Linked DNA regions of Homo sapiens. The protein of the gene in region 2 interacts with the protein of the main gene of each other region in a pairwise test. Each region holds a gene or a part of one and is shown on either strand. Other genes may lie near its edges.

The links.
Region 1: the proteins of GNAO1 (region 2) and GABBR1 come close enough for resonance energy transfer, tested with the Homo sapiens proteins (one study listed by BioGRID).
Region 3: the proteins of GNAO1 (region 2) and RPS6KA3 interact in binary tests that used the Homo sapiens proteins (3 or more experiments, as listed by UniProt).
Region 4: the proteins of GNAO1 (region 2) and CBX5 interact in binary tests that used the Homo sapiens proteins (3 or more experiments, as listed by UniProt).
Region 5: the proteins of GNAO1 (region 2) and ABCD3 interact in binary tests that used the Homo sapiens proteins (3 or more experiments, as listed by UniProt).
Region 6: the proteins of GNAO1 (region 2) and DLST interact in binary tests that used the Homo sapiens proteins (3 or more experiments, as listed by UniProt).
Region 7: the proteins of GNAO1 (region 2) and SYNGAP1 interact in binary tests that used the Homo sapiens proteins (3 or more experiments, as listed by UniProt).

Annotation. Positions count from the first base shown.
Region 1 is NC_000006.12:29,608,578-29,613,031, reverse strand, and holds part of GABBR1 (gamma-aminobutyric acid type B receptor subunit 1 isoform a precursor), read left to right. Parts: intron 1-417; coding exon 418-481; intron 482-2,030; coding exon 2,031-2,108; intron 2,109-3,652; coding exon 3,653-3,803; intron 3,804-4,298; coding exon 4,299-4,431; intron 4,432-4,454.
Region 2 is NC_000016.10:56,330,989-56,334,488, reverse strand, and holds part of GNAO1 (guanine nucleotide-binding protein G(o) subunit alpha), read right to left. Parts: intron 1-3,500. UniProt on the Homo sapiens protein: Guanine nucleotide-binding proteins (G proteins) function as transducers downstream of G protein-coupled receptors (GPCRs) in numerous signaling cascades.
Region 3 is NC_000023.11:20,155,410-20,159,863, forward strand, and holds part of RPS6KA3 (ribosomal protein S6 kinase alpha-3), read right to left. Parts: intron 841-4,454; coding exon 700-840; intron 112-699; coding exon 1-111. UniProt on the Homo sapiens protein: Serine/threonine-protein kinase that acts downstream of ERK (MAPK1/ERK2 and MAPK3/ERK1) signaling and mediates mitogenic and stress-induced activation of the transcription factors CREB1, ETV1/ER81 and NR4A1/NUR77, regulates translation through RPS6 and EIF4B phosphorylation, and mediates cellular proliferation, survival, and differentiation by modulating mTOR signaling and repressing pro-apoptotic function of BAD and DAPK1.
Region 4 is NC_000012.12:54,248,752-54,253,205, reverse strand, and holds part of CBX5 (chromobox protein homolog 5), read left to right. Parts: intron 1-978; coding exon 979-1,165; intron 1,166-4,454. UniProt on the Homo sapiens protein: Component of heterochromatin that recognizes and binds histone H3 tails methylated at 'Lys-9' (H3K9me), leading to epigenetic repression. In contrast, it is excluded from chromatin when 'Tyr-41' of histone H3 is phosphorylated (H3Y41ph).
Region 5 is NC_000001.11:94,511,966-94,516,306, reverse strand, and holds part of ABCD3 (ATP-binding cassette sub-family D member 3), read right to left. Parts: intron 1,162-4,341; coding exon 1,105-1,161; intron 1-1,104. UniProt on the Homo sapiens protein: Broad substrate specificity ATP-dependent transporter of the ATP-binding cassette (ABC) family that catalyzes the transport of long-chain fatty acids (LCFA)-CoA, dicarboxylic acids-CoA, long-branched-chain fatty acids-CoA and bile acids from the cytosol to the peroxisome lumen for beta-oxydation.
Region 6 is NC_000014.9:74,898,369-74,901,986, reverse strand, and holds part of DLST (dihydrolipoyllysine-residue succinyltransferase component of 2-oxoglutarate dehydrogenase complex, mitochondrial isoform 1 precursor), read right to left. Parts: coding exon 3,488-3,618; intron 2,065-3,487; coding exon 1,991-2,064; intron 1,699-1,990; coding exon 1,615-1,698; intron 922-1,614; coding exon 754-921; intron 1-753. UniProt on the Homo sapiens protein: Dihydrolipoamide succinyltransferase (E2) component of the 2-oxoglutarate dehydrogenase complex. The 2-oxoglutarate dehydrogenase complex catalyzes the overall conversion of 2-oxoglutarate to succinyl-CoA and CO(2).
Region 7 is NC_000006.12:33,436,111-33,440,564, reverse strand, and holds part of SYNGAP1 (ras/Rap GTPase-activating protein SynGAP), read right to left. Parts: intron 3,203-4,454; exon of another isoform or gene 3,084-3,202; intron 2,898-3,083; coding exon 2,274-2,897; intron 2,235-2,273; exon of another isoform or gene 2,147-2,234; coding exon 2,002-2,146; intron 1,791-2,001; coding exon 1,646-1,790; intron 1-1,645. UniProt on the Homo sapiens protein: Major constituent of the PSD essential for postsynaptic signaling. Inhibitory regulator of the Ras-cAMP pathway.

The DNA.
Region 1 (4,454 bases), on a different chromosome or scaffold from region 2:
CCCTCATTTCTTTTCAAACTAGACCAAGTATTCATGAGTCAGATGAGAACTATAGGATTTTGAAAGACAAAACAGTCTGAAAGGTCATCTTCTTATTCCTTTTAAAATGAAAAGATTAGTTTCCAGAGAGATTTGCTGACTTGCTTAGGCCACACAACCAGAAGCCTGCTGGTGTTCTGTCTGGGGATTTTTTCCCATTCAAATCTCATAAGTGAAGCTCCTTCTCCAAAGAATAATGTTTCTAAAATCTAGGGTATGGGCATCTGGGGTATGTCCTATATGCAGGCAAATGCCATAAATAGCATTCATTCAGAGGCTCAATTACATCAAAAACAGAAGGATTTAAAGAGTCCCTGATGTTCTCTTTCACTCTTGCTTTTGTCTCCTTTGCCTTGCTCCACATGTTCCTTCCCTCAGGGCCATGTGGTGTTTGATGCCAGCGGCTCTCGGATGGCATGGACGCTTATCGAGCAGCTTCAGGGTTAGTACAGGGGCAGGAGGGGACCGGACATGGGGGCTAGGCTGGGGCTGGGCTGGGATGCCCCCTGGGGAAGAATGCCAGAGACATCACAAGATTGCCCTGGCACCTCCCAACTTCTGCCCTTCTCTTTTAACTCTGTTCATCAAGCTTGTAAATAATAATAATAATAAGCTTAACTACAAGAAGATTGATGTCTTTGAGTTGCACTGGTTTTGCTCTTGAAAAGAGGTGTGCAGGCTGGGTGTGGTGGCTCACCCCTGTAATCCCAGCACTTTTGGGAGGCCAAGGCAGGCAGATCATGATCATGGTCAGGAGTTTGAGACCAGCCAGACCAACATGGTGAAACCTGTCTCTACCAAAAATACAAAAAAAAAAAAAAAAATTAGCTGGGTGTGGTGGCAGGTGCCTGTAGTCCCAGCTACTTGGGAGGCTGAGGCAGGAGAATCACTTGAACCCAGGAGGCAGAGGTTGCAGTGAGCTGAGATCACGCCACTGCACTCCAGCCTGGGTGATAGAGTAAGACTCTGTCTCAAAGAAAAAAGAAAAGAAAAGAGACATGCAAATTAAAAACAGCTACTCTCTTTCCCAGTGGCTTCCATTAATTTCAGGAATTTCCCCTTGAGTGGCTTGGGTTGAGAGGTTGATGACCTGTCAGTTAGACTCAAGAAAGCTGAATCTAGGAGAACCGCTATTTTTTTTTTAAGGGAATCTGCCAAATTTCCTTGCTGTGTAAAGCTTCAATGTGTATAGCTTGGCTTTTGTAGATTGTATTTTCTTGAAACTTAGCACACAGGTATTTGCAGAACTTCTAGGAGTTAATTTTTCTGCTCCACTCGGCTCTCAGTCTTTTACGGCATGGCCAAGAGAGCTATTTCTTGGCCTCCTGTGAAAAGTTTCTTTCTTCCTTTCTCCCCACCTCCACATCCTTTCAGCTCCTCTTTGTATCCAGGACAAGAGGAAATGGACTTCAGCCATGGTGAAAGGAGTGTGAGTTGGCTTTTGAAGGAAAAGTTATGGTAACGGAAACAGTTCTAGAACAGAAATCTTAGAAATGACCAAATTTTACTCAATGGCGCTTTAAGAGGCAGATATAACTTATCCAAGGAATTAAAACCCAAGCCAACAGAAGAGAATGTTCTAAAATTAAAATGAAAGCCACTGGGAAAATAGAGCCTGCCCATCATGAGAGGAAGAATAAGCAGAAATATGTGTAAAGCTTTAGAAGCCAAAATCAAAGTGAGAGACATCTCGCCGAGAGAGGTGTGAGGAATGGAATAGGTGGCAGACATGTTGTGGAGCCTCCTCACTGAAGACTTTTAAACATAGATATTCTTATTTATTTGAGTTGTCTTGGGAACCACCTTATATTGCTTTTAAGTCATGTTGCTGATTCAAGAGTCTCGTAGGTCCTTCCAAGCATCCTTAGGGCCTCAGGTGAAAATAAAATCAGATACAACCATGCAAAGCTCTAGGGAAGTGGGAAGTTGAAAATGCCTAGGATCAGCTCTTTGGCTACCTGTGGTCACTCCTTTTATTGTCGTCTGCCCAGGTGGCAGCTACAAGAAGATTGGCTACTATGACAGCACCAAGGATGATCTTTCCTGGTCCAAAACAGATAAATGGATTGGTGAGTGGATCTTGTTTGTATTTTCCTTCAGCCCCTCTCGACAGTCAAGGGAAAAAGTCATGCCTTTGAGTGAGGATGGAATGGTAGAGACTGTTAGGTTGGAATGTGGCTGGCAGCTGGGCCAGGAGAAAGGGTTAAGTGAGAGTGAATACAACCCCTAAGGCGTGGGTAGGGGAGACTGGTGTATTTGGAGAGGGAATAGGCGGTGGTTAGTACTATTTTTAATGGTGCATTGCTGGGGTAACTGGGGATTAGAGGCAGGGGGTGGGCAGAGGGCGGGAAATGGAAACTCCATTTGGGTTTCCCAGATGTCCTGGTGTCTTGATATATTTGAACCAGCTACTTCAAGCCCAGAGCTGTCTCTTTGTCTGTCTCTGTCAGGAAAACGGTTGCTTAAACTATGGAGGAGGAGGGAAAACCTCATGTAATTGTCATCTGCCAAAATGTGCTTTTTATTTTTATATGTATTTTTAAAAATTTTCCTATTTTTATGTAATTTAGAGGTAGACGTGCAGTTGTGTTACATGAATATATTGCATAGTGGTGAAGTCCGGGCGTTTAGTGTGCCTGTCACCCGAACAGTGCACCTTGTACCTAATAGGTAGTATTACATCCCTCAAAATATACTTTTTAAAGAGAGAAAGCAAGCAGTTATTCTTTGTGTACTTGGTCTAAATGATAGGACATAGGAGAGAAACTGAAGGTGGACAAAAGGAAGGACCTACTGATAAAAGAAAGCCTCCTTGAGAATGAAGGGGAGGCTCAACCATTGAAGATGGCTGCCGTCTGCCCTGCCCAGCAGATATCCAGTCATTCCCAGCACTGCTGGAGTTTTGCCCTTTTTTTTTTTTTTTTACAATTCGAATTTAGGACAATGTTCTGGATTGCTATAAATGCTGCATGGCCTAAATTATTCTTTAAAAAAAAAACTAAGCAAATTGAAATTAGTTTTTTTTGGTGAACTCTGACAAATTTGAACTTCCCCCTAATAATAACTGGAAAACATATTTGGGAATATTACCCTGCCAGGATTAAAATTTCAGATTAGCTTTCCTTCTTTTTTTGTTTGTCTTAAGAATAGGTGTCCACACTAGATACTTCAAGGCCTTTTTAGCTTTATGATTCCATAATTGTCATTTAAAACTTTGATTTGGGTTATAAGAAACCTTATAACATTTTTTAATGATCCCCTTCTTTCTCCTCCCATTTTCCTTTGCTGTAAGAAAGACAGAAAAACTTAAAGAACAAACAAAAACAAAGACTACAACTTTGGGGACATGCCTCAGCATTTCCCAACCTATGGATAGACCATTCACTCCATCTTCTCATCTCATTTCTGGTTGCTTCCTAACGGCCCCAGTGGCACTGAGCATTCTGCCTGCAGTAACCTCTGTCCAGTGCAGTTAGGGCCTCATGTCCCCAGCCAATGACTGAATGTCCATCAGCAATCTAGTTCTTTGCCCTTTTCTCCTATCCCGTCTTCATTCCTTTGTCCTCCTTCCCTTCTCTTTTCCCTTCCCCTCTTCCTCCCCTGTGCCATGCAGGAGGGTCCCCCCCAGCTGACCAGACCCTGGTCATCAAGACATTCCGCTTCCTGTCACAGAAACTCTTTATCTCCGTCTCAGTTCTCTCCAGCCTGGGCATTGTCCTAGCTGTTGTCTGTCTGTCCTTTAACATCTACAACTCACATGTCCGGTAAGTTTCTCTTCTGACGTTTTCCTTGTCTGCCTCTCTGAGATACTGATCATGTTCCTGGACAGGATGAGAATAAAACCTGTGTAACTCCCATGGCCATGTATCATGGAGTTTTTCATTCTGACTTGTTGAGAATGAAAACAGGGAAACCAGATATAACCCCCACTCCTACTCCAAAGTAGCTAACGGGAGGAAAAAAGAAAAGAAGAGAAAAAAACAACCTTTGGGGCCAGGTCTCACAGTCTTGGACTCTACATAAATAGCCTGTATTCTAGTGGGGGCCTGTGCTTGGGAAGCCCTCTGCAACTCCATCTTCAGCCCCATGACTGCATTGCTCTGCCTCTCAAGGCTCCACTGTCTTCTCCAATCCTGTCTTCCTTTAGCCCCTGGCCCTGAAATTAGGGTCATGCCATTGCGTGGTATTTGGAGAGCTCAGCCTCCCTGGAGAAGAGGGGTAATTCTCTCTCCCTCTCACCCTCTCCACCTCTGCCCTAGTTATATCCAGAACTCACAGCCCAACCTGAACAACCTGACTGCTGTGGGCTGCTCACTGGCTTTAGCTGCTGTCTTCCCCCTGGGGCTCGATGGTTACCACATTGGGAGGAACCAGTTTCCTTTCGTCTGCCAGGTGAGGAGGTGGTGGGCAAATTC
Region 2 (3,500 bases):
CTCAGACAAGATCAAGCTTTTATATGAGACTACCATGTTTATTATAATACTGTTTTGTCATTTTTTCATTTAAAAGATAATAATGGCCAACAGATAGGTTCTATTCTTTGCATGTGTAACCATGTTTCATGTGTAATTTCCCTGAGTTAAATGTACTAAAACTGGGGCTCATCGAAGGTAAGTACCTTGCCTGAGGCTGTGACCCGGACCCTTGGCTCCAGAGGCCATAATTTTATTACTGTCTGGGGCTTCAGCGGCCCCTGAGCAGTTCCCTGCCTTCTCCACACTTCCTTCTCACTTACCAAGGGGTCTGTGTGCCCCTTCCAATTTGATGCTCTTGGAGGCTCAGGGCTGCACAGCCATACAGCGGCTGGGCCTCCCTGGGACCCGGTCTTTGGAATCAGGGCTCTTTACCCCTGCTACCTCCTGCTGTGGGGACAGACCAGGCTTTTGCAAGTCACCTGCCCAGGCCTCAGGCCAAGCACTCAGAGGACGCTGCCTGCAAGGGCTTTGGGGTTCATTGTGGGTTAAGTTTGAACCTAAAGCCAGGGTAGGATCTGGGAAATCAGGAAGTGGGGAGCTGGGCCAGGCCTGAAGGAAGACTCAGTGATCCATGGAGCCTGCCAGGCCACCCATCCCTGCTGCCGGGGCAAACCACAAGCAGCCCACAGGGAGGAGCCCCAAGTGTCTGAACCACAGAACGATGTGGGGTCCCAGGCTGCATCTGCTCCAGGACCTGCTGGGGGCCAGCTTGCTGGCTGGACCTGCAGTTACCACTGCATGAGAGATGGGCATGCTGACCAGCTCATGGATGTCCACAGGGCTGGAAAGGGCAGATGACTTCGCCAGCTAGGGTGTTCACTGATAGAACCCAGTGACAATCCTTGTGAGAATGCCCCTAAGAAAAGAAAACAGAAGGGTGGCTTCCAAGGCTCAGGGAGGTAAGCTTGAAGTCACACTGCGAGAAAATGAACTTGGCAGCCGGGTGCGGTGGCTCACGCCTGTAATCCCAGCACTTTGGGAGGCCAAGGTGGGCGGATCATGAGGTCAGGATTTTGAGACCATCCTGGCCAACATGGTGAAACCCCATCTCTACTAAAAATGCAAAAATTAGCTGGGCCTGGTGGCAGGTGCCTATAATCCCAGCACTCAGGAGGCTGAGGCAGGAGAATCGCTTCAACCCAGGAGGCGGAGGTTGCAGTGAGTTGAGATCGTGCCACTGTACTCCAGCCTGGGTGACAGAGCAAGACTCTGTCTCGGGGAGAAAAAAAAAAAAAAGAAAAAAAGAAAATGCACTTGGCTGGGATTCCAGCCCAGTTCTGACTGGCTCCAGACCCCACGCTCTTAAACTGGACATCATCAGCATTTTAAAAATCCAGAAAAAAAATTTAAACAGGACTCCTGGCCTCCTCTCCTGAGCCTGACTGCCCTCCGTGGACAGGAACGGTGTGGGGATGGGGTGAGAGAGCCGAGGCTGCAGAGCAGACCTGTACACGCCCCCGGCCTCACAGCCTCCTCGCCAGCCAGTGGCATCTGGGCAGGCTCTGGTCTCAGCCAGAAGGAGCCTCTCCCAAGCCTCTGTGCCTGCCCCGCCCTGGCGCCCATGACCTCTGCTTCCAAGCTGTGAGGACGCCCTCTGCTGTCATCTGCAGCTGGACACCAGCCTGGAAGCGTTTGGTCCTGCTCTTCCTTTCCCAGCCAGGGCAAACCTCCTTTAGATGGGCAACCTGGCCCTCTGGCCTCTCTGTGCTGGCCGAGCCTCATGCAAGGAGACGGCTGTGGAGGGTGGGCAAGGTGTGGGAGAACTGCTTAACAACCCAGTCGGGAAGGCTGACTGTGCACCTGCTGTCCATCCCACCTAGCCACTGTTCCAGGAGCTGGGGATGGGGCAGTCGACACAGCCCCACCTTCCCAGGGCCTGTGTTCCAAGTGAGTGTGCACACGTGTGTGAGGTGGTAAACAGAAGAGTCAGAGAGATGATATGTCAGGAGGTAGTGTGAGAGAACGAATCAGGCTATTAGTGATGGGGGAGAGCTGCTGGGGGCTGCTATTTGATGCAGGGTGGTTGGGGAAGGCGTCTGGATAGGGGAGACTGAGGGGAATGAGGGAGCAAGTGGGCCTCGAGTGGCCCAGTGGAAACACTGGCAGGCATGGCGGCAGGAAGCACACGTGGAGGGGCCAGGTGGTGGGTGAGGCTGGGGAAGGTGGTGGAGGTGAGGGTGGCCAGAGTCCGGCTGGGGCAAGCAGGCCCTTGAGGTCATTGTCAGGGCTTGAGCTTTTGCTCTGAGTGAGATGGGAGCCCCTCGAGGGTTCTGGCCAGAAGCATGTTGACAACGGCCCTGTTGCTGCCATGAGAGCAGGTCAGCGGGTGGGGCCTGCAGAGCTGCTGTCGTCACCAGATGGCACTGGCACAGTGGGGGTGGCTGTGGAGGGTGTGAGTGGTCAGAATCTGATGTACCTGCCAGGGGAGCTGCATCTGCTGGTGGCCTCGGTGTGGGATACAGGAGGACGAGCAGAAGTAGAGATACCTCCACGTGGTGGAATGAGACACATTTAGAGGGAGGGAGGAGCACACAGAGCAGCTTCTAGTGGGAGGATGGGAGCCAGGGGTTCCACGGGCTCATGTTAACTTGAGACTCATTTGATGTCCAAACAGGCACTGAGTAGGCAGAAGTCAGGAGGGAGGGCTGGGCTGGCGATATGAATTTGAGAGTTGTCCAAGTGTACAAGGTGTTTAAAACGAGACAGGAGAAGGTCACCAGGCACCAGGCCTTGAGAGGAGGTGCTTCTGGGATGGAGCTTGGGGACGGGATACAGCAGCCCCCAGCAGACCTCCCCCATCACCAGTTGCCTGGGTGGGTGGGCAGGAGGCATCGAGGGAGTCTGGAAAGGGCGGCCCGAGAGGAGGCGGGGGCTGGGAGTGAAAGGAGGTACCAGGTACTAGGGGACTGAACCCTGAACCCTGAGTGGGAGGAGGCTGATGGAGCAGCCCCCAGGATAGGACTGGGCTATGAGCCATCTCAGCAGGCGGAGGAGCAAGAGCTCGATAGGAGTGGGGTCAAGAGAGAAGGTGAGGAGAGGAAACGTCGGACGCCAGCATGGACAACTCAGTGGGGAACTGGATTTGAGGAAAGCCAATGCCAACCAGGCCCCAGAGCACCTTTCACAGCCCCTGGTTGGATGTGCCCAGGGTTTCTGGGACCTGCCTCTAGGTAGTTATCCAGAAGGGAGAGCCAGCCCTGTTCACAGAGGCCGGGGTGCACCAAGAGCCTGCTCAGGAGCCTGTGCCCTGGTCCCTCCCCTGTAAAGGGCTGGGCAGAGAAGTGCTTTGGTGGTTGGGGCATTAGGGTGTCAATGGCACCCCCTGGAAGCACGTGCTGTGGCAGCCCTGTGAGTCCTCCCTCTCCTTTCCAGCACAACAAACCTACTCTGATCTGCTTTCTATACTGGGCCCAAGACTTTGTCAGAAGCTGAGGTCTAACTGCTAAGACAGGAAATGT
Region 3 (4,454 bases), on a different chromosome or scaffold from region 2:
TGAGGTGATTTTTTTAATACCTCTCCGCTGAGCAAGAGTAGAGCGGCCTACTGGTTCCAAAACTGGTGACTGATTACGGTTCAAAGCAGAATATGTAGCTGCCATGGCACCCTGAACAAAGGAAATAAAGGTAGTAACAAAAGTGACAATGGATAGTCACACGTACACAAATACAAAATGAAGAGTTTTTTCATATGCAAATGTACATAGATTTTATTTGGTTCATAATGAAAATAACCACACTGGTCAAATCCACTGACTTAACCAAAACTGTAGAGGCCAACATGGAGGTTAAAATTATGTATGAGAGAGAACAAAGATAGGCTCATAACAGGCAGTCCTCACTTTTCTCAGGACTATTCAACATTTTTTCCCTTTGCATTCCTTTAATGCATAAAGGCACTAAAGAGACAGGAAGGCATGCTCTTTAAGTTGGGAAATCCATAAGCTTAATCTGTCCTTATTGATAGTGAATACCTACTCATGTAGACTGAGAGGAATTCAAAAGTCGCTCTTAAACTAGTTTTATTACTAATATATTGATATGCCTTGAGCTTTTCGAAGTCACCCACTGTAAGAGAATCCCACAACAGAACTGGATGCAGGATGAAAGAGAAAGGTGCTGGGGGCATGGACAGGGCTTCTTGAAGTCTCTCCTGGAGGACCTGTGGAAAACAGTGACTGTATGGGGCTGCTCACCTTTACTAGATGTGGTGCATCCTGTCTGTTTAGTTGGTATTGTGGCAGTTGGTCCCAGTGGACGATCCAAGGATGTCTGAGCACAAGAGCAGCAGTCAGTCTCTGATGAGGGTCTACATGAAGCATCTTTGACACCAGGTCCTGTAATGGGAATAATAAAACAAGCTTAAACCTTTTGTTTTGCTTCTTTTTCTATGGCTCTTGATACTAATGAACATTCTTCCTTAGCTTCTGTGATACTGCTTTTTCTGGTAGCAGCCCTTTGGTCAACATGGTAATTTGGGGGAAAAAAAATCAGTCTCCGCTTTTTCCCTGCTAAATAACTGTAATTTGGTGCATCACAAGGGGTCAATTTAGCACATTTTATATATCTTTAAGTACTCTGGCTCTTTTTTCCTTCAGATTTTCTGAGTTTCCTACATTTTTGTAGGTTTATTTATTTATTGAAACAGGGTCTCATTCTGTCGCCCAGGCTGGAGTGCAGTGGCATGATCTTGGCTCACTGCAACCTCTGTCTCCTGGCCTCAAGTGATCCTCCCACCTCAGCCTCCCAAAGAGCTGGGACTACAGGTGTGCGCCACCATGCCTGGCTAACTTTTATGTTTTTAGTAGAGATGGGGTTTCATCATGTTGCCCAGGCTGGTCTCCACCTCCTGGATGCAAGTGTTACTCCCGCTTCAGCCTCTCAAGGTGCTAGGATTACAGATGTGAACCACTGTGCTTGGCCAGTTTATTTTTAAGTAATATTCAGTTACTTAAGACTTTTTTTGTGCTGCTGGTAATACTGAAAAAAAAAAACATGAATGTCCAATAACAGGAATTTAATTGGAGGGCTCTAAATGCCCCCTGAAAAGACTATAGTATTTTTTTTCCTACTTCAAAAGCAACCCATGGGCATTAGAGAATAATCAGAAAATACTGGAATGTGAAAGCACATGAGGAACAGTTCCATAATCCCACTCTTCCAGAGACAGTCACTGTTAGCACTGCATATCTATCTAAATGCCATTCCTATGCATGCAATGTAGATGCATATAATCACTACATGGTTTTACACTCTTCAAAATAACACCACTGTCATTTATAAAAGCCACCATTTTTTAAATTTTTCATTCAAAATACATTTGTTAAGTATCCAGTAAAGGCCAGGCATTCTGCTAGGCACTGGGTAGTTAGCAATGAACAACACAGAAATGAAGTCTAGGCAACATTGTGAGGTCCTGTATCTACAATTTTTTTTTTTTTTAAAGCTGAGTGTGGTGGCATATGCCTGAGGTCCCAGCTATTTGGGAGGCTGAGGCAGAGATCATTTGAGCCCAGGAAGTCAAGGCTGCAGTGAGCCGTGATTGAACCACTGTACTCTAGTCTGGGCAACAGAGCGAGACCCTGTCTCAAAAAAAAAAAAAAAAAAGACAAAATGAACTCTGACTTCATGAAGTTTTCAGTTCAGTGAAGGAGAGATAAAGAATCAATAATCACAAAGCAAGTAAGTTCTTTGACAGGATGAACAAACACCAGGTGCAGCTGGAGGGACACAGAGATACCTGACTGTACTGTGTGAGGTGGCTTAAAAGGGACTTTTTAAGAGGAAGATAAGACCTGTAGGATAAGCAGGAGCTAGATTAGAGAAAGGAAGGGGGAAACACTGCCTCAGGTAGAGTAGAGAGAATGGAGAGTGAGTTTGGAGGAACGCTCTTAGGTGGGAGAGAAGACGACACAGTTAAGGAACTGGCAGCAGTACAATGCGGCTACAGCATAAATTTACCGTGAAGGAGAATGTGGCAGTGGATAAAGTGGGAGAGATGAGAAGGGACCAGATCAGGAAAGTCCCTGTAAGCCATATTTGCAAACGTGGACTTATTTGATGGTAATAAAGTGTTTAAAGTTAGGGAGTGATGCGGTTAAGTAAAAAGATCACATTCACTGAGTGTGGAGGAAAATGGACTGGTGAAAGATGACAGCTTCAGGGAGGTGTATGTAATGGAGAAAATTGGGCTGGGCGTGGGAGAAATTTGGGAGGCCAAAGTGGGAGGCTCACTTGACCCCAGGAGTTCGAGACCAGCCTGGGCAACGTAGTGGGACTCCATCTCTACAAAAAATTTAAAAATTAGCTGGGAGTGGTGGTGCATGCCTGTAGTCCCGGCTGTTCAGGAGGCTGAGGTGGGAGGATAGCTAGAGTCCAGAAGTTGGAGGTTGCAGTGAGCTGTGATTGTACCACTGCAACTCTAGCCTGGGCAACACACTAAGACTCTATCTCAAAAAAAAAAAAAAAAAAAAAAAGAGAGAGAGAGAGAGAGAAATGGAGGTATTTAGGATAAAGAACTGACAGAATCTGGTGGTTAACTAGATCTTGGGAATTAGCGTGATGTTGTTCCAGGTACTCCTCTGCTATGAGACATTTATGGTTTCTTACTTTTAGTTATTAACAGCTAAGAACAGGGATACGCAATTGAACAGAGCTGGAAATAAAAATAAAAAAAATTAGGAACCTCCCTTTTGCAATTCTGAAAGTAGGCAAAAGTGCTTAAAATTGCATAAAAGGTTGCAAAACTGTCCAGGGGTACAACAAAACTCAATTATAATTTTAATCAAATCTATACGTTAATGAGCTTTTGGTGAACTCACTTCAAACTACTTCTCTTACTACAGCCCCTTTAATGGCTACTCCTCCCCTAAGCTTTCTCTTTAAGTGGTGCTCTCCAGAATTCTTTCCTTGGCTCTCTTACACTCTGCTCAGATAATCTCATTCAAATTCATGGCTTTAGCTACTATGGATGATGACAACTCTTAAGTGTCACCCCAGACTTCTCTTTTAAGACCTATAACCATATAGACAGTTGCCTGATGGACATACATCTCTTAATTTATAATGTCCAAATCTGCAACCACCACTCCTCTCAAAACTACTTCTTTTGTATTCTACAAATCAGTGAAGGATACCACCCCTCATCCATCTGCCCAAGGTAGAAATGGGGACTACATACATTATAACTGCTTTTCTCTCATTTCTTATGTATAATAAACCATCAAGTCTATTATGCCTCCTCAATTTCTCTTCCATTTGGCTCAAATTCCATCACAACTGCTCTAATATAGGTCCTCATCATTCATGACCTGAAATATTGCAAAACCTTACAAGTACTGTCCCTAATATTAGGTCAGTGAGGACTAAATGAAACAACATAGGTAAAAGTGTTAGCACAGTCCTTGGTACATAAATGCTCAGTAAATGCCAGCTCTAGTCTTCTTGCTCTGAAAGCCACATATGGCCCACATGACTGACAACATTCACATATGCAACTTGCTCTTGAGGGGATACACCCAGATTGATAGAGCCCTCCCTTCTATCTTGTGGCTAATCATGGAATTATATCATGCTTGTAATCACAAGTCTTAACTGTACATATTAGCAACAGTTACTAGTGATAACATGGAATCTATAAGATAGGCTGTGAGTTGGATGTAATTTTTTATGCTCTGTGTCTCCATTCTTACCTGCCCTTCCTCTCTCACCAAAAAAGCATACCAGGATGTAAGTGAATGAAGAAAATCACAGTGATAACCTCAACTTGCTTTAACTTATTAAAAAATCAATTAATGTGTAAGCCCTGATATTTTATTATTGGTAACATATACTTAATATACCTCACAACCTATCATGACAAAGTTTGTGGTGGACTCCATAGCTAAGAATTACTGCTCCACAGAATGCACTTTAAAAAGGAAAATCTGATCACTGCACTCCTTAATATGTG
Region 4 (4,454 bases), on a different chromosome or scaffold from region 2:
TGAGTGCCTCTCAAAGTGCTGGGATTACAGGCGTTAGCCACTGTGCCTGGCTCCAATTAAATGATTTGGAATAAATTTATAGAGCTATGCAACCACCACTATGATCCAGTTTCAGAACATTTTTGTGTCCCCCAAAATTCTCTTGATTCCCATTTGTAGTTAATTACAACTCCCTCCCTCAGCCCCAGGCATTCACTGATCTGCTTTTTTTTTTTTTTTTTTTTTTGAGACAGAGTCTGGCTTTTTCGCCCAGGCAGGAGTGGCACAATCTCAGCTCACTGCAACCTCCCCTTCCCGGGCTCAAGCAATTCTCCTGCCTCAGCCTCCCGAGTAGCTGGGACTACAGATGTGTACCACCACACCAAGCTAATTTTTGTAATTTTAGTAGAGACACGGTTTCACTGTGTTGGCCAGGCTGGTCTCAAACTCCTGACCTCAAGTGATCTGCCTGCCTCGGCCTCCCAGAGTGCTGGGATTACAGGTGTGAGCCACCGTGCCCGGCTGATCTGCTTTCTGTCTCTATAAATTTGTCTTTCCCAGACATTTCATGTAAATGGAATTAGTATGTAGTATCTTGTGTCTTATTTCTTTCACTTAGTATAATGTTTTTGGGGTTCTTCCAAGTTGTAGCATGTTTTAATATTTTGCTTATTGTTGTTGGATAATATTCCTTTGTATGGATATACCACATTTTGTTTTTCCATGTCACCATCCATTGATGAACATTTGAATTTGTTTTCTGTTTTTGGCTATTAAAATGCTGCTGTAAACAATTGTAAATAAGTCTTTGTGTGGGCTTTTTTTTTTTTTTCATTTTTCCTGGGTAGAAATCTAGGATCAAATTTGTTATCTTCTTTAAAGCATAGGGTTTCTCTGTCCTTTTTGTCCGAATGTCCTCTTTGAAATAAGGCATTGGATTTTTTTCCTCATTCTTTACCCCCCCCTTTTTTTTTTAATTTTCCCATTTTTCTTACCCAGGGAGCACAATACTTGGGAACCTGAGAAAAACTTGGATTGCCCTGAGCTAATTTCTGAATTTATGAAAAAGTATAAGAAGATGAAGGAGGGTGAAAATAATAAACCCAGGGAGAAGTCAGAAAGTAACAAGAGGAAATCCAATTTCTCAAACAGTGCCGATGACATCAAATCTAAAAAAAAGAGAGAGGTAAGCTTCCTTTCCCTTTTCCCCAAAAACTATTCTTTTGCCACCAAAATAATAATAATAAATAAAAGTATCATATTTTGGTTATTTCTATTGTAAGGATGGACCTATAAGGTAAATTGTTGAACAAAAGAGCTTCCAGGGAGGTATGTTGATTACAGCTCCCTCTCCTGGCTAAGTGAGAAATGTAATTTGTGGCCACTGGATTGTATTAAGGGGGCAAAATTAAATCTTTGTAAAATGTTAAACCACTCCTCTGCCTTCTCCATAAGTAGAAGACTTAGTTATCTTAGAGAAGGAGGATCATTGGTGAATTTTTTAAGAATAGAAAGGGGCTTTGAAATGTTTTGTTTTGTTTTGAGACAGAGTCTTGCTCTGTTGCCCAGGCTGGAGTGCAGTGGCTGGATCTCAGCTCACTGCAATCTCCAACTCCCGGCTTTAAGCGATTCTCATGCCTCAGTAGTAGCTGGGATTATAGGCACATGCCACCACACCTGGCTGATTTTTTTTTTTTTTTTTTTTTTTTTGAGACAGAGTCTTGCTGTCACCCAGGCTGGAGTGCAGTGGCACTATCTTGGCTCACTGCAAGCTCTGCCTCCCGGGTTCACGCCATTCTCCTCCCTCAGCCTCCCGAGTAGCTGGGACTACAGGCGCCTGCCACCACGCCCAGCTAATTTTTTTGTATTTTTAGTAGAGACGGGGTTTTACCATGTTAGCCAGGATGGTCTTGATAATTTTTGTATTTTTAATAGAGACGGGGTTTCGCCATGTTGGTCAGGCTGGTCTTGAACTCCTGACCTCGTGATCCGCCTGCCTTGGCCTCCCAAAGTGTTGAGATTATAGACGTGAGCCACCATGCCCAGCCGGGGCTTTGAAATGTTTACCATTTCACTTCCTTTTTTCTTTTTTTTTGGAGACAGAATATCGCTCTGTCACCCAGGCTTGAGTGCAATAGTGCGATCTTGGCTCACTGGAACTTCCACCTCCTGTGTTCAAGCAGTTCTCCTGCCTCAGCCTCCCAAGTAGCTGGGATTACAGGCACACGCCACCATGCCCAGCTAATTTTTTGTATCTTTAGTAGAGACGGGGTTTCACCATGTTGGCCGGGCTGGTCTCAAACCCCTTACCTTGTGATCCATCCACCTTGGCCTCCCAAAGTGTTGGGATTACAGGCGTGAGCCACCGCGCCCGGCCCTTTCTTTTTTTTTTTTTTTTTTTTTTTTTTTTTTTTTGAGACGGAGTCTCGCTCTGTCGCACAGGCCGGACTGCGGACTGCAGTGGCGCAATCTCGGCTCACTGCAAGCTCTGCCTCCCGGGTTCACGCCATTCTCCTGCCTCAGCCTCCCGAGTAGCTGGGACTACAGGCGCCCGCCACCGCGCCCGGCTAATTTTTTGTATTTTTAGTAGAGACGGGGTTTCACCTTGTTAGCCAGGATGGTCTCGATCTCCTGACCTCATGATCCACCCGCCTCGGCCTCCCAAAGTGCTGGGATTACAGGCGTGAGCCACCGCGCCCGGCCCCGGCCCTTTCTTTTGTTCCAGTGATAGCATTTGTTTTCAATCCTTGATAATCTTTTTTTTGCAGTGAAAATCATATAATATACAATTAAATATTTTATTTATTTATTTATTTTGAGACAGAGTCTTGTTCTGTCACTCAGGCTGGAGTGCATGGGCGTGATCTCGGCTTACTGCACCCTCACCTCCTGGGTTCAAGTGATTCTCCTGTTTCAGCCTTCTGAGTAGTTGGGATTACAGGCATGTGCCACCATAGCCAGATAATTTTTGTATTTTTATTTTTATTTTTTATTTATTTTTTTGAGACGGAGTTTCACTCTTGTTGCCCAGGCTGGAGTTCAATGGCATGATCTTGGCTCACTGCACCCTCCATCTCCTGGGTTCAAGTGATTCTTCTGCCTCAGCCTTCCAGAGTAGTTGGGATTACAGACATGCACCACCATGCCCAGCTAATTTTGTATTTTTAGTAGAGAGGGTGTTTCTCCATGTTGGTCAGGGTGGTCTTGAACTCCCTAACTCAGGTGATCCACCTGCCTTGGCCTCCCAAAGTGTTGGGATTACAGGTGTGAGCCACCATGCCTGGCTCAATTAACAATTTTAAAATGTACAGTTCAGTGGCATTTATATTCTCTTGATCTATTATTTCTACATACTTGGCGTACAAAATTAATTTTTGTCTTTTGAATCTTCTTCAGTTTGGGAAGTGTATTTATGAAATTTTGGTTTGATTTAGTTGCTTTAATCCTTCTGATCTTTAGCTCTCAAGTAAGTAGCATAAGCACTGTTATTGCCTCTCTCTCTTTTCATCTGTGTGTGGGCGCATAAATACACACACTCTACCACCTCCTCCCGCCCCCAGCTTCCATTCCTTTTATTTATTTCAAGGTTATGAAGCCTTTTGTGGTGAAGGATGTATCATACACTTTACATTTCATAAAAGCGTAAGTCTACTTCGGAATCTTCCAGCCTTCCAGAGTAGCTGCCACAATCATCCCTATGTATCTTCATTCTAATTAGATTTATACCTTTCTAGAGCATTAGTTCTCAATGCTACACATTATAATCACCTGGGGGGTACGTTAAAAAAAAAAAAAAATCTCCAGTGCCTAAGATGCACCCCAGACCAGTAAAATTAGAATTTTTTTTTTTTCTTTTTTTTTTGAGACATAGTCTCACTCTGTTGCCCAGGCTGGAGTGCAGTGGCACAATCTCACTGCAACCTCTGCCTCCTGGGTTCAAGCGATTCTCCTGCTTCACCCTCCCTAGTAGCTGGGACTACAGGCACATGCCACCATGCCTGGCTAATTTTTTGTATTTTTAGTAGAGATGGGGTTTCACCGTGTTAGCCAGAATGGTCTCAATCTCCTGACCTCGTTATCCGCCCATCTTGGCCTCTCAAAGTGCTGTGATTACAGGCATGAGCCACCACACCTGGCCTCTGTCATTTTTAAAAAGGAGCAGTCTGAATAATCTGGCTTGGAGCCACTGGCCAGTGCACAGAGTTTTGTTCCTAGGCCAGGTTCTGAAGCTGCCGACCTTGAAAACAACCCCCACATGTCCCTTACATCATAATGTTCATCTGGGACCCCTGATAGCATTCTTAGCAGTACTGGCTGCTGTCAGGTAGACAGCTGGAAAGATAGGTGATTGTATGTTTTAAAGGTATAGGAGGGGATTGTGTTTATTTCTTAAGACCACTGGAGAAGAAATTTGTTAGTTTGCATTATGCCTGATTTAAGATTACTGCCTGTATGATGATTTTAGCATTTTCTTC
Region 5 (4,341 bases), on a different chromosome or scaffold from region 2:
AATTTCACTGAATTTTATTAAGTACTTTCATATAGGCTACCTGTCTAATTTTCATGGTAATCTAAGAGATAGGAAGGTAAGGCTCAATAACTTCATTATACAAAGGAAGCAACTGAGGCTAGAAACTTTGGTGCCTGAACCCAGGCTCTCTGACTTCAAATCCTATGCTCTTCATTTTATCACTTGTAGACTATCATCTACATCCTAAAGTTCTTGAAGGTAAAAACTGTAATTAATTTGCATCCCTCATGACACTTAGCTCAGTATCTGGCAAAAAAAGGTCCTTAATCAGGTATGTATTTTGTGGAACAAGGCACCTTTACCATTATTCCAATTTTTCTCAAATCCTTGCTTTTACCTAAAATTTCTATATCATTTAGGAAGGAAAAGAAGGAAAGAAGAGAAGAAAGGAAAGAGGGAAGGGGGAAAGACAGAAAGGAAAGAAGAAAAGAAAGGAAGGAAGAAAGGAAGGGAGGGAGGGAGGGAGGAGGAAAGAAAATAAAGAGAATTAAACTGGGTTTACTTTCAGGTTTTGAGCATTTCACATTGAGTTGAAAAGAACTGACATAGTGAGAATGGCACTACTGAAGCACCAGAATAAGTAATACACGTGCACCAATGTAAGCCTCATTTGAATATCTTTGTAAATTATAGTGACTATCTAATGAATCCTACTTACTACAGTACATTGATAAACATAGCTTATGTTATTCAATCTTCCCCCTTGTAGTCCTGACCTCTATTAAAAATGTCCCTAAATTTTTTGCCATCTAATTCTTCTTAAGACTTTTTCTCCTCTGTCACTGCTGGATAAGAAAAGTTTACTTCACCATATTTGTGATAAGACTATGCAAAGTTTAGTCAGTTACTATTAACAGATAAGAGTCACTTATAAAACTGGAGAAAAACTGTTACACCATTGCTTTCAAAACTGACAACTATAATATTTAAGAAAATCCTATTTTATAAAACAAAACCACCTTTTCTCCTTAAGACATATGTTTAAGGGAATACAAACCATAAAATCTAAAACCATATTAACCTGAATTCATATTTTAAAGAAAATAAAATTTCACTGTACCATTCAATGAAAGAAATACAAACCTCATGATGTTTCCAAAGAGATTTCCTATGAGACACAGTGAAGAGAGTGATGCCAACCTAATACAAAGAAAATGATTTAGGTTTAATGAGTAACAGAGTCACAAATTAAACTAGTCCATGTACTTTAAGCTGTTAAGAGGACAGTCTTCAGTGACTAAAGTTAAAAAGCAATGTCAATGAGAAAAAATTTACAACTGGATGCAAAATGTTTATAGCAATGGAAAGTACTGGCCATCAACCACATAATAAAAACTACCAGGTACTGGCATTAAGTGTATTATTTTCTTTTGGGCAAAAAACATATCTCCTATCATGTCTCCTATTTTATTGTGAAAAATATATGAGAGGAATATGAGAAGGATAAAAATAGCCAAAGGTCAAAATCAGGAAAAATTAAATCAGTATAGCATTGTTGACAGTCAACTTGCTTTTCAAATACAGGGTCATAATCCCCTACCGTAAACTACTGTTTTGGAATGTGTCTTGGAATTCAGATTTTGAAAATGTATTATTTAACACCCCCAGAGAGTTCTGAGGCAGAATTTTATAATTAAACACATAAATGTTTCTGTAGCAACACACATGGACACTGATATTGAGACATATAGAGTTTAAATATCTTTTGTTAGCTTAGGCGAAGTTTTACCCAGTGAGCTTGCTACAAAATTATGAAAAATGTTTTAAATTTAAGCACTTTCTGGATTTCAGATTGTGAATACGTATTTATAGATCTGTACTTCAGATTTTCAAAAAAAAAAAAACATTAATAGATAATAGCTGTAGTTGCTCTAGATCAGTGGTTCTCAACCAAGGTGGGGAGGTCAGTGATATTTGTCCCTCAGGGGGACATTTGGCAATGACTGGAGGCATTTTTATTTTCACAACTGAAAGCACTACTGCCATCTAATGGGCAGAGGCCAGGGATGCTTTCTAAACATCCTCCAGTGCACAGCAACCCTCAACCCTGCCCAACTAGGAATTAACAGTGAAAAGGTCAATAGTGCCAGGACTGAGAAACCCCACTCTGGGTCACTGTTCCTCCAAGTGGATCACTCAAGGCTGGCAAATGCATGCTTAGGGCATCTGGGAAATTTCCACCATGGTTTCTTAATTTTATTTTCATTTTGATGATAATTTTTAAAAGATCATTATAAGTATATTCTAGATCATTTTTACCATGAGATTCAAGTTCCTCGGTTTGTATCTACACCTCTGATTGCCAAAGTGATATAAAATAAAACTTCTAATGTGTAATAAGTTTGGCTGCACTGTAAAAAGGTTCTTAAATTGGTTAGGAATTGCATAATAAAATAAGCATATTATCAGTATTAATAAAACATATATTTCAACCATACCACACTTTTCTGATTTTTCAGAGCTCATTTAAGATATTATTTCTCTGTTTATGATACTACAATAATTGGATTAGACATCTACTTAATGCACACATTCTTTACATGAGGATATAAAAAATATATGAAGTATATAAGTCAAAATAAAAAGCAAAATGCAAAATAATGAAATTTGAACCTCAGATTCTATCTTTCCTTAATTAAATCCCAAACCACTGGTTTAGTTTCATCTAAACGGTATCATAGGTCTCTTTAATGTTGTAAATTTGAAACTGTATTTAAGTTTTGTCTGTATTTAATGTATTTAATGTGTAAGTTTATATTAGTTTTGTAGCTGTAAAAGAGCTCTAAGCTTAAGGAATTCACACCTCATCATGTTTATACATGTTTAAGTGGTATCACAGTAATTTAAATTATCAATGAGGCCCCATATGAATTTTCTTTTAAATGGAACTGATGTTTTATAGAATTTATACAGTCTTATGTGGGGACTTCAAGCCTATAGCTAGAGCATAAGAGGAAATCACGTGGTCAAAATTACCAGCAAAGAGCTGCTATGTCATTGAATCAACTGCAGACTACATGGTTTTATGTACATGAGAATACCATAAACATCTCTAATACCTATATATTTGAAAACCAACATGAACAAATGTATAATTATATATTACCAAAGCAAATTCAAGAATAGAAAATAAATCATTAACAAGATAAAATCAGTAGTTAAAATCTTTCTACAAAGAATAGCAAATTCTTTCATCATCACGCCAGTGCTTCTCAAACTTTAATGCGCATTTGAATCATCTTAGAATTTTGGTAAAATGCAGATTCTGATTTAGCAGGGCTTGAAATTCTGCATTTCTAACAAACCCCTAGGTGACACTGCTGCTGCTGATCATGAACACACTTGGAATAGTAGGAATTCATAATATATATACTCAATATGACCTTTTTTATTTATTGAGAACTCCCAAAGAACACATACAAAATGTTAAAAATCCTCATCTACCTCATTTACTTATATAGAAACTATAAAACAGCTAGGATATACTACATTTGTTCCAAAATTTAACCATAGTATAGATGTTGGTAACAATTTCTCAAAGAAAGAAAACTGATACTATTGAATAATTACTTAAAGAATGGAACCAATAAAGATAGCCTCAGACTTAGCTACTAAAAGCAGCTTTGGTAAAATATTGCTCAGGCTAGAAAATAAAACGGATAAATTAAAAATTGCCAAATAATTATTGTTGAGTTTTATTCATAAAAAAACTCTAATGTTTAGATAAAGTTAATGGAAAAATTAAGAAAAGGTCAGTTTATTAACTCTAAGTAATGAGGTAAAGTGAAATAGATTTAAATACGTTGTTTTATATAAATGAGGTATCTTTTATATCTTTTATCTTTTATATCTCATTTATATAAAACAACATATTTAAATATATTTCCCATATATAAAGAGAATTATAAAGAGATTTAAATATGTTGTTTTACATAAATGAGGTATCTTTTATATCTCATTTATATATCAATGAGATATCTTTTACATGACTACCTAAAATTTCTATATCATTTAGGAAGGAAAAAAAGGAAAAAGGGAGGAAAGAAGAGAAGAAATCAGTAGTGAGGGTCCTGTCTGTCAGAAGGAAAACTAACAAACAGAAAGGACATCCACACCAAAAACCCATCTGTACATCACGGTCACCAAAGACCAAAAGTAGATAAAACCACAAAGATGGGGAAAAAACAGAGCAGAAAAACTGGAAACTCTAAAAAGCAGAGCGCCTCTCCTCCTCCAAAGGAACGCAGTTCCTCACCAGCAACGGAACAAAGCTGGACGGAGAATGACTTTGACGAGCTGAGAGAAGAAGGCTTCAGACGA
Region 6 (3,618 bases), on a different chromosome or scaffold from region 2:
CTTCTCACAACTGCCTTTTATTTTTTAAAAACATACTCTGCCCTCTAACGCATCTGCTGCCTACAAGGAAAGTTTTCCCTTCAGTTCTGGCTGCCTGTACTTGCTTCTCTCTGGGGTTAGAATTTAAAAAAAAAAAAAAAAATTAAGCCAGGGTCTACAAATTCTGGAATTGTATGTGTAGCTGGGTGTATGGGCATTTTCCAGGAAGATCTACAGACTGTGGTTTCACACAGGAGTCAGTAACCCAAAAGGATTCTAAACACAGGAGTTCCCAGAAAGCTTTTTTGATACCAACGTATCTTCTAAGGGCCAGCTCAAGCCCCTTTTAATACTTAATTCTCTGAACTCCCGGGAAATTTACAAGCTTTATCATACAACTTGGCAGCTCACAGACTGACATGCATAATTGTCATCTGTTTCCCAGGGGCAAGGGACCACGTTTCCAACTATATCCCCCACTCCATAGAAGCAAACAAGCCTCCTCAGCTCAGTGGTTCTCAAACTTGAATATGCATCAGGATCATCTGCACTTCTTCTTTAAGTCTGGGATGGGGTCTAAGAATATGCATTTCTAATAAGGTCCCAGATGATGCTGATCCAGACCACAATTTGATAATCAGTGCCTTAGCTATTAGAAACTAAGAAATGGAACTTAGGCCTGAAATTATAGTTAATGTTTTACAATTAGCATTTAGTTGGATTTCCCTTTCATCGAGACCTAGCCACTAGGACCTTAGAAGTGACGGTTCCTACCTTGCCTCCTATAGCCACTGGCCTGTCAAAGATGCCATGCATCCCCAGGATGGCAGACTGAGGGGGGTTGATAATGGGTGTTCCAAAGAGCGAGCCAAAAACGCCTCCATTGCTAATGGTGAAGGTACCGCCATCCATATCTTCAATGGCAAGTTCATTCTTTCGGGCCTAAAAACAGATTTCATAATTGAAATATCAAGCCAACCCAGTTTCCTTCACCTAAAGTCAGTCCATAATCCCAGCGCTTTGGGAGGCCGAGGCAGGAGGACTGCTTGAGGCCAGGAGTTCAAGGCCAACCTGGGCAACATAGTGAGACCCCCATCTGTATAAAAAACTTAAGAATTAGCCAGGCATGGTGGTGCACACCTGTAGTCCCAGCTACTTGGGAGGCTGAGGCAGGAGAATCGCTTGAGCCCAGGAGTGCAAGGCTGCAGTAAGCTATGACTCTACCACTCTACTCCAGCCTGGGCAACACAGCGAGACCCTGCCTCTAAAAACAAAAAAGCAAAGGAAGTCCAGAAAGCTTGTATCGAGATCGATGGCACAAGCGCTAGCTTCCGTGTGACAGTTGTTCGGCTAAGGTGTCTATGACCAGTGCTCCACCAGAGAAAAGGCACAATTTCATACAGTTGAAGACTTCAAAGATGATCTTTTCTAGCAGGTCTCATCTGATGAGATTTCAGTTACCAGAGCATGGTAAACTCCACCAGATATATAAAATACTTAGCTCTCATGGGCAACTGCTTTTCTCAGGGGCTATGCACTTGACTTTCCATGAGCACTGCTTGCTAGTGAGCCCAGCCTTCTGAAGGCTCTCTTCCCTCGCCTGCTTAGCAGCTTGTATACATCTTTCTACTTTACCTTCTCTCCCAGTTCAGTGATGGTCCGTTCAATATCTGCAAAATTCATAGCTTCCACATTCCTGATGACTGGAACCACCAGACCCTGAAGGGGGTGAAAAGCTGTTTTCAGTTGCAAATTAATAGTACCTTTTATAGTTAACAACTCCCTTGATTCAACCCATGGTATGCCCTCCCTAGAATACCTTCATTACTCAGTGTGATTAACAGAAAGTGTTAAAAGAATGCGGCATGGTTTAAAAGAAAAAAAAGGTTACTTTTACTAACTCCCTTCTAAAAATACAGAATTAAAGAAATGATTTCTCTTGTGTGATCTCCTTCACACAGATAAGGTGAGGGTCTAAGACCAACATTCCCCACCTCCTGCCCCAACATACCCGTGGGGTGGCCACTGCAACACTGATGTCAATATAATCCCTATACACCACCTCTTTGGTTGTGTCGTCAATCACTATGAGAGAGAAAATACATGTTACATACAACTCCCCAGGAAGGCCAAGACTAATGAGGTAATATGTGCATTAACAGAGTAAAAATCTGCAGAGCTTGATACAGTGTGGGCTGACCAACCACCATGAACACCACTGCATTATGCATGGCAGCTGGCATTCCACTTACTCCCATCCCAAGTATAGTATCTCCCAAGTCCCTGACTGAGCCTGGGCATAGGAGCATCCATTTCTTTGGCAGCCCTAAGAAGGGCTCAACACACTGGCTTCCATAGGATAGGTATGCACTAAACTCTCGTTAAGTAGCTCTAGTCAAGCCCTCCTTTAGCAGAGAATGACTAGGGTTAACAAATGTTCCAAAAAAGGGCAAATTAGCAAAGGAAAAGGGATATAGAGATACTACCCATTCTCTGCTTCCAACTCTCAACAAGAGGAAGAGGGGAGATCCAAGAGTAAGCGGGGTGATCTGGCTTTGAAATATGCTACCTCAAGAGATGGCAAACCAGCATCTGAAAATGTACACCTAGCAACTAATGGGAAAATAAAGGCTTGGGAATCATTTCCGCAGAAAGTCCATGTTGTATTGTTAGATAAGACATCCAGAGGAAGCATGTAATGTGAAAAAGAGGCCACGAGAACTTTTGAGAGCCGCCTACATGTGTGGGCAAGCAGAAGGGGGCCACTGAAAAAGATGAGAGCCAGTCAGGGAGGCATGAGAAGAATGGGAAAAAGAAGAGGTATACATTTGGGCAAAACAAAGATGGCCTTCTACCTCCCTAGAGCACCACTCAACAGGAGGGACTAGGGCTTCTACTTCTAGACCTTTAGGGCCCCTGACACTGCTGAGGATGGCAAAAGTAGCACTGACCCCTCTCCAATCTCCCAAGGAACAGAGAAGTGTGTCAACAGGAAAACAAAGTGCTTGTTAGGTCAACACTACAATGACGTAGGTAAGTAAAAAGGAAAGAAAATAAGCACCAGGTCCATGAGAGGCCAAGCCGAAGCTCCCAGTGAGGCCCATCGACCTAAGATCAAAGGTCAGCCAGGAGCCTACACCAACTGTGGAAGTCAGGCCCCAAGGTAACAGGGCCTGTGGAGCTGGGGGAGGGGAGGAAGCCAGAACACGTGCTTCCACCTTGACAGGAGACAGCCTGGAGAGCTGGGCTATCCCAGAACTGCCTGCTGCCTGAGCAGCTGCCGAGCTGTACACTGGGAAGAGAAACTGTTCTGCCCAGCTGGCGGGTAGAAAGTAATCATGATGCTGCTTCAGGAAGGTGAACCAAGAAATCCCTGGGGAAGATACTGATATTTCTATAGGTAGCAAATAAAAAGCCTTGGTCTGTTGATCCTCTGCATGTGGGAGCAGGTCTGTGCTCATACACCTACCTCCCAGGACCTCTCCAATTCCAGCCACAAGCAACTCACCTGCATTTACAACAGGCTGTTCCTGCAAGGCAAAGGCTGAGGCCTTCACAAATGCCGACATGAAGCCTAGTTTGAGGTTATGTTTCTTCAAAAAAGCCTCTTTGTGCCGAGCCCTCATCTCCTGGATGTTA
Region 7 (4,454 bases), on a different chromosome or scaffold from region 2:
CAAGATGGGAGGCTGCTTGAAGAAGGGGGCCATGGCAGAGGGAACAGACAGATTAGGGAGAGAGAAATGGAGGGGGAGAGAAGGTGAGGGGAGAGACACGTGGGAGAGAGATGGAGGGGTGTGGGAGAGAGACAAGGAGAGGAGGAGAAGAAAAACAGACACCAGGGAGAGACAGAGATGGGAGAGAGATGGAGGGTCACTTGAGGTACAGGGAGCTCGGACCCCCCAACTCTTCTGGATTCCAGGGAAATGGGGATGGAGGTGCCCCAGGCATGATCCCCAGTCCCTGGAATGGCTCAGAGCTCACTCCCCGCACCTCCCAGTTCCACTTCAATGTCCCACTGACACCTTAAACTCGGCTGGTGTAAAGCAGAGCTCACCATCGCCCCCACACCTCCAACTGGCTCCTCCTCCTGACTTTCCTGGTTGTCAATGAGGCCACCGGTCTCCCAACCACCAGCCTCATGGCCTCTTGAGTCATCCGTGACTCCCCACAGACATGCTCCCTCCTTTCCAATAAGCTGACAATTCCTACTGATCCTTTCCCGAGAGGGTCCTTCCAGTAGCTCCTTCCTAACTTCTGTCACTGTTCTGATTCAGGATCTGACTTTCATGCCTCCGAGCCCCCAGCTGGCTCTATTCCAGTCATCCCCCAACATACATCCCTCTACTCTACTACATACACTCTACTTATGGATTAATTTTTTTTTTTTGAGATGGAGTTTCACTCTTGTTGCCCAGGCTAGAGTGCAATCGTGTGATCTCGGCTCACTACAACCTCCACCTCCCAGATTCAAGTGATTCTCCTGCCTTAGCCTCCCGAATAGCTGGGATTACAGGCATGTGCCACCACATCTGGCTAATTTTGTATTTTTAGTAGAGACAGGGTTTCTCCATGTTGGTCAGCCTGGTCTCAAACTCCTGACCTCAGGTGGTCTGCCCGCCTCAGCCTCCCAAAGTGCTGGTATTACAGGTGTGAGCCACCGTGCCCAGCCTATGGATTAATCTTCTAAATCACAATATTTCTGACACCTTTAATGGCATCCCAAGGCCTACCAATGACCTCAGACTCCTTGAGGCCTTCCAGTTTCTAAAGCTAATCTTCCTGCCCAGACATCTCTCCCGCCACTCCCCATTATGAGGCACATGCTCCACTAAACCTGATGTAATTGCTACTAACCTACTTTAATGTCCCCTGAAAACTCCTGGGCCTTTTCACCATCACACATGTGCCTTTCTCACAGCCTTCTTCTGAAATGTCTTTCTTGCCAACTATGTCCATATATCAGAACCTAAACCAGTCTTCAAAGCCTACCCAAGGGGGCACCTCTTCCCCACTTATCTCAAAGCTCTGCCTTCTCTCTGACCTTATGTCACACAGAGGTTGGGGGGACCCTTACTCAGCACTTACACACCATTATGGCTCTGTGGCTTTTTTTTTTTTTCTTCTAATTTGTCCCCATTCTGGTGGAGGCCCTCTGAGGGCAGGGACCAGGCCTCTTTCACCTGTTTGCTCTATAGCGCCTAGAACAATGCTTTGCCCATAAATGGTGCTCAGTCCTCTTTGAGGATGGACAGATAGATGAACAGATGAACACATAATTCCCCCGACCCTGGCCCCCCAGCCCAGCGTTCCCAGTCTCACCAGTGGGAGTTGACCACCTTGCACAGGGCCAACTCACAGCACATTCGCAGGTTGGCCTGGTGCTCTGCCAAACTGGATGCTGTGCACTTGATAGGGTCTACCTCGCAGTTTTCCTCAGATTCATACAGAGCACGGATGAATTCTCCTGGGGGGTGGGGGCACAAGAGGGTGTGGTCACACTTTCCAAGGGCAGGGAAGGGGGTGGCCAGGGTTGGGGAAATTTCAGAATCAGGTGTTGGAGGCTGGAGTCCTAGGACTCTGGGTTAGGAAGTATCAAGCTGTGGAAGGGTGGACTTGGGGTCTGGGGTGGACATCTGGCAGGTTTGGGAAGAAGAGGGCCTGAGTGTGGGCCATACCAATGGCATCCTTGAGGTATTTCTGACCAATCAGTCTCATATACTCTTCTATGGCTTTAGTGGCAAGCGTGTTCTCGCGGAATATGAGGTGCTCCCGTTCCATGAACCGGTCTACCTCAGACATGGCCATGTCTGAAAGGAAGTCCTGAGGCCCAGGAAAATCCAAGTGTCAGCCTCTGCACAACCCAATCTCGTGAATTTGCCCTGTCCTCACTAACCCCCAAGCAAGTGCCCATTCCCAAGTCACCTTTCCCTGAGGGCACAACACTCACCTTGGCCTTGCCTGTACTCTGCAGGATGTGAACTAGTGCACTGGCAACCTCCTCCTTGCCTTTGACATTCAGGGCGGGCTCCAAGACTGCACACAGCATCCGATAATGGTTGGTGACATACTCTGCAAACTCTTTATATAGCTCCATGGGCAAGATGCTCATTGTCTGGTAACGTGCTTTCAGCCGCACAGCCGGGCAACCTCCTTTGCCCTTGCCCCCTGAGCCACCCCCCGAGCCCCCTCCCCCTCCCGAACCCATGCCCCCAGATCCCCCACTGCCTGTTGGCAGGGTTACAGGGTACCACTGCTCTGTGAAGTGGCGCCCAGCCAGGGTGGCCACTGGCACAGTCACCAGGCCGACATAGCCTGCCTTGTCCTTCTTGCGCTTTTTGTCTGAGTCACGGTACAGATGCAGCCGCAGGGCACGGACAGCCGGCAGGTTGTTAAACTCGAAGTGCTCGCCCCAGAAGACGGTGTCCCCAGAGGCAGAGCGGGGCTTGGAGGTGGTGCGTGCATACAGCATGTCATCCAGGCAGAGCTCACAGTAGTACCGCTTCTTGGGGGGCAGCTCCCGGGCCTCTATGATCCACAGCTTTAGCACATTGTCTACCCGGCGGCTGTTGTCCTGGCATGGTGGGGTGGGCATGATGTTAAAGGGGGAAGGGACAGAGAGACACCAAAAGAGGAGAGACAGTAAGAAAGTGGGATACAGACAGCAATCATAAGGTGAGACGGTGTACTGGGTTGAATAGTATCCCACCAAAACTCATGTCTACCCTGAACCTGTGAATGTGATCTTATTTGGAAACAGGATCCCTGCAAATGTAATCAAACTAAGAAGAGGCCAGCCATGGTATCTCATTCCTGTAATCCCAGCACTTTGGGAGGCCGAGGTGGGTGGATTGCCTGAGGTCAGGAGTTCGAGCCAGCCTGGCCAACATAGTGAAACCCCGTCTCTAATAAAAATACAAAAACAAATTAGCTGGGCATAGTGGCACGTGCCTGTAATCCCAGCTACTCAGGAGGCTGAGGCAGGAGAATCACTTGAACCTGGAAGGCGGAGGTTGCAGTGAGCTGAGCTCATGCCATTGCACTCCAAGCCTGGGAAACAAGAGCGATATTCCATCTCAAAAAAAAGAGGCCATACTGAATTAGAGTGGACCCTTAACCCACCTTATAAAAACTGGTGTCTTTATATGGAGAGGGAGATTTGGAGACACAGAGATACAGGATACAGAGACACACAGAAGGAAGCCAGCTACATGAAGATGGAGGCAGAAATTAGACGGATGCAGTTATAAGCCCAGGAATGCCAAGGACTGCTGGCAACCTCCGGAAGCTAGGAAGAGGCAAGGAAGGATTCCCTGCTACAGCATCAAAGAGAGCGTGGCCCTGCTGATACCTTGCTTTTGGACTTCCAGCCTCCTGAACTGTGAGAGAATAAATTTCTGTTGTTTTACGTGACCCAGTTTGTAGCAGTTTGTTATAGCAGCCCCAGGAAGCTACTGTAGAAGCGTAGACATACACTAGACAACACAAACAGTATTGGAAAGATTTCAAAAGCTGGAATAACAAGCCAAAAATATTAATGTAGAATTTGAAGGGAACTGGAAAGTCCTGCAGAGACTATCAGAAATTGTGAAAAAAGAATTGCATATAGAATGGGTAAAGCTTGGCCAGATGTGGTGGCTCATGCCTGTAATCCTAGCACTTTGGGAGGCTGAGGCAGGCAGACAACCTGAGGTCAGGAGTTTGAGACTAGCCTGGCCAACATGGTGAAACCTCGTCTCTACTAAAAATACAAAAATTAGTCGGGTGTGGTGGTGCATGCCTGTAATCCCAGCTACTGGGGAGGCTGAGGCACAGGAATTGCTTAAACCCAGGAGGCGGAGGTTGCAGTGAGCCAAGATCACGCCACTGCACTCCAGCCTGGGTGACAGAGTGAGACTCTGTCTCAAAAAAAAAAAAAAAAGAATCAGTAAGGGCCTGGGGGGATACAATTGAGCACAAGCTAATGGTAAGGCTCAGGTGATATTGCAGTGTGTTGAAAGGGAACATGGTGTTTGTACTCTGCATAGGTCAGATCATGTCAGCATCTTGGGTTGAGTTCTTTAAGGACATCAAGACACAAGAGTTCCCCCCAGAGGAGTGTGACTAGGACTGTAAGCTTGCTAGAAACTGG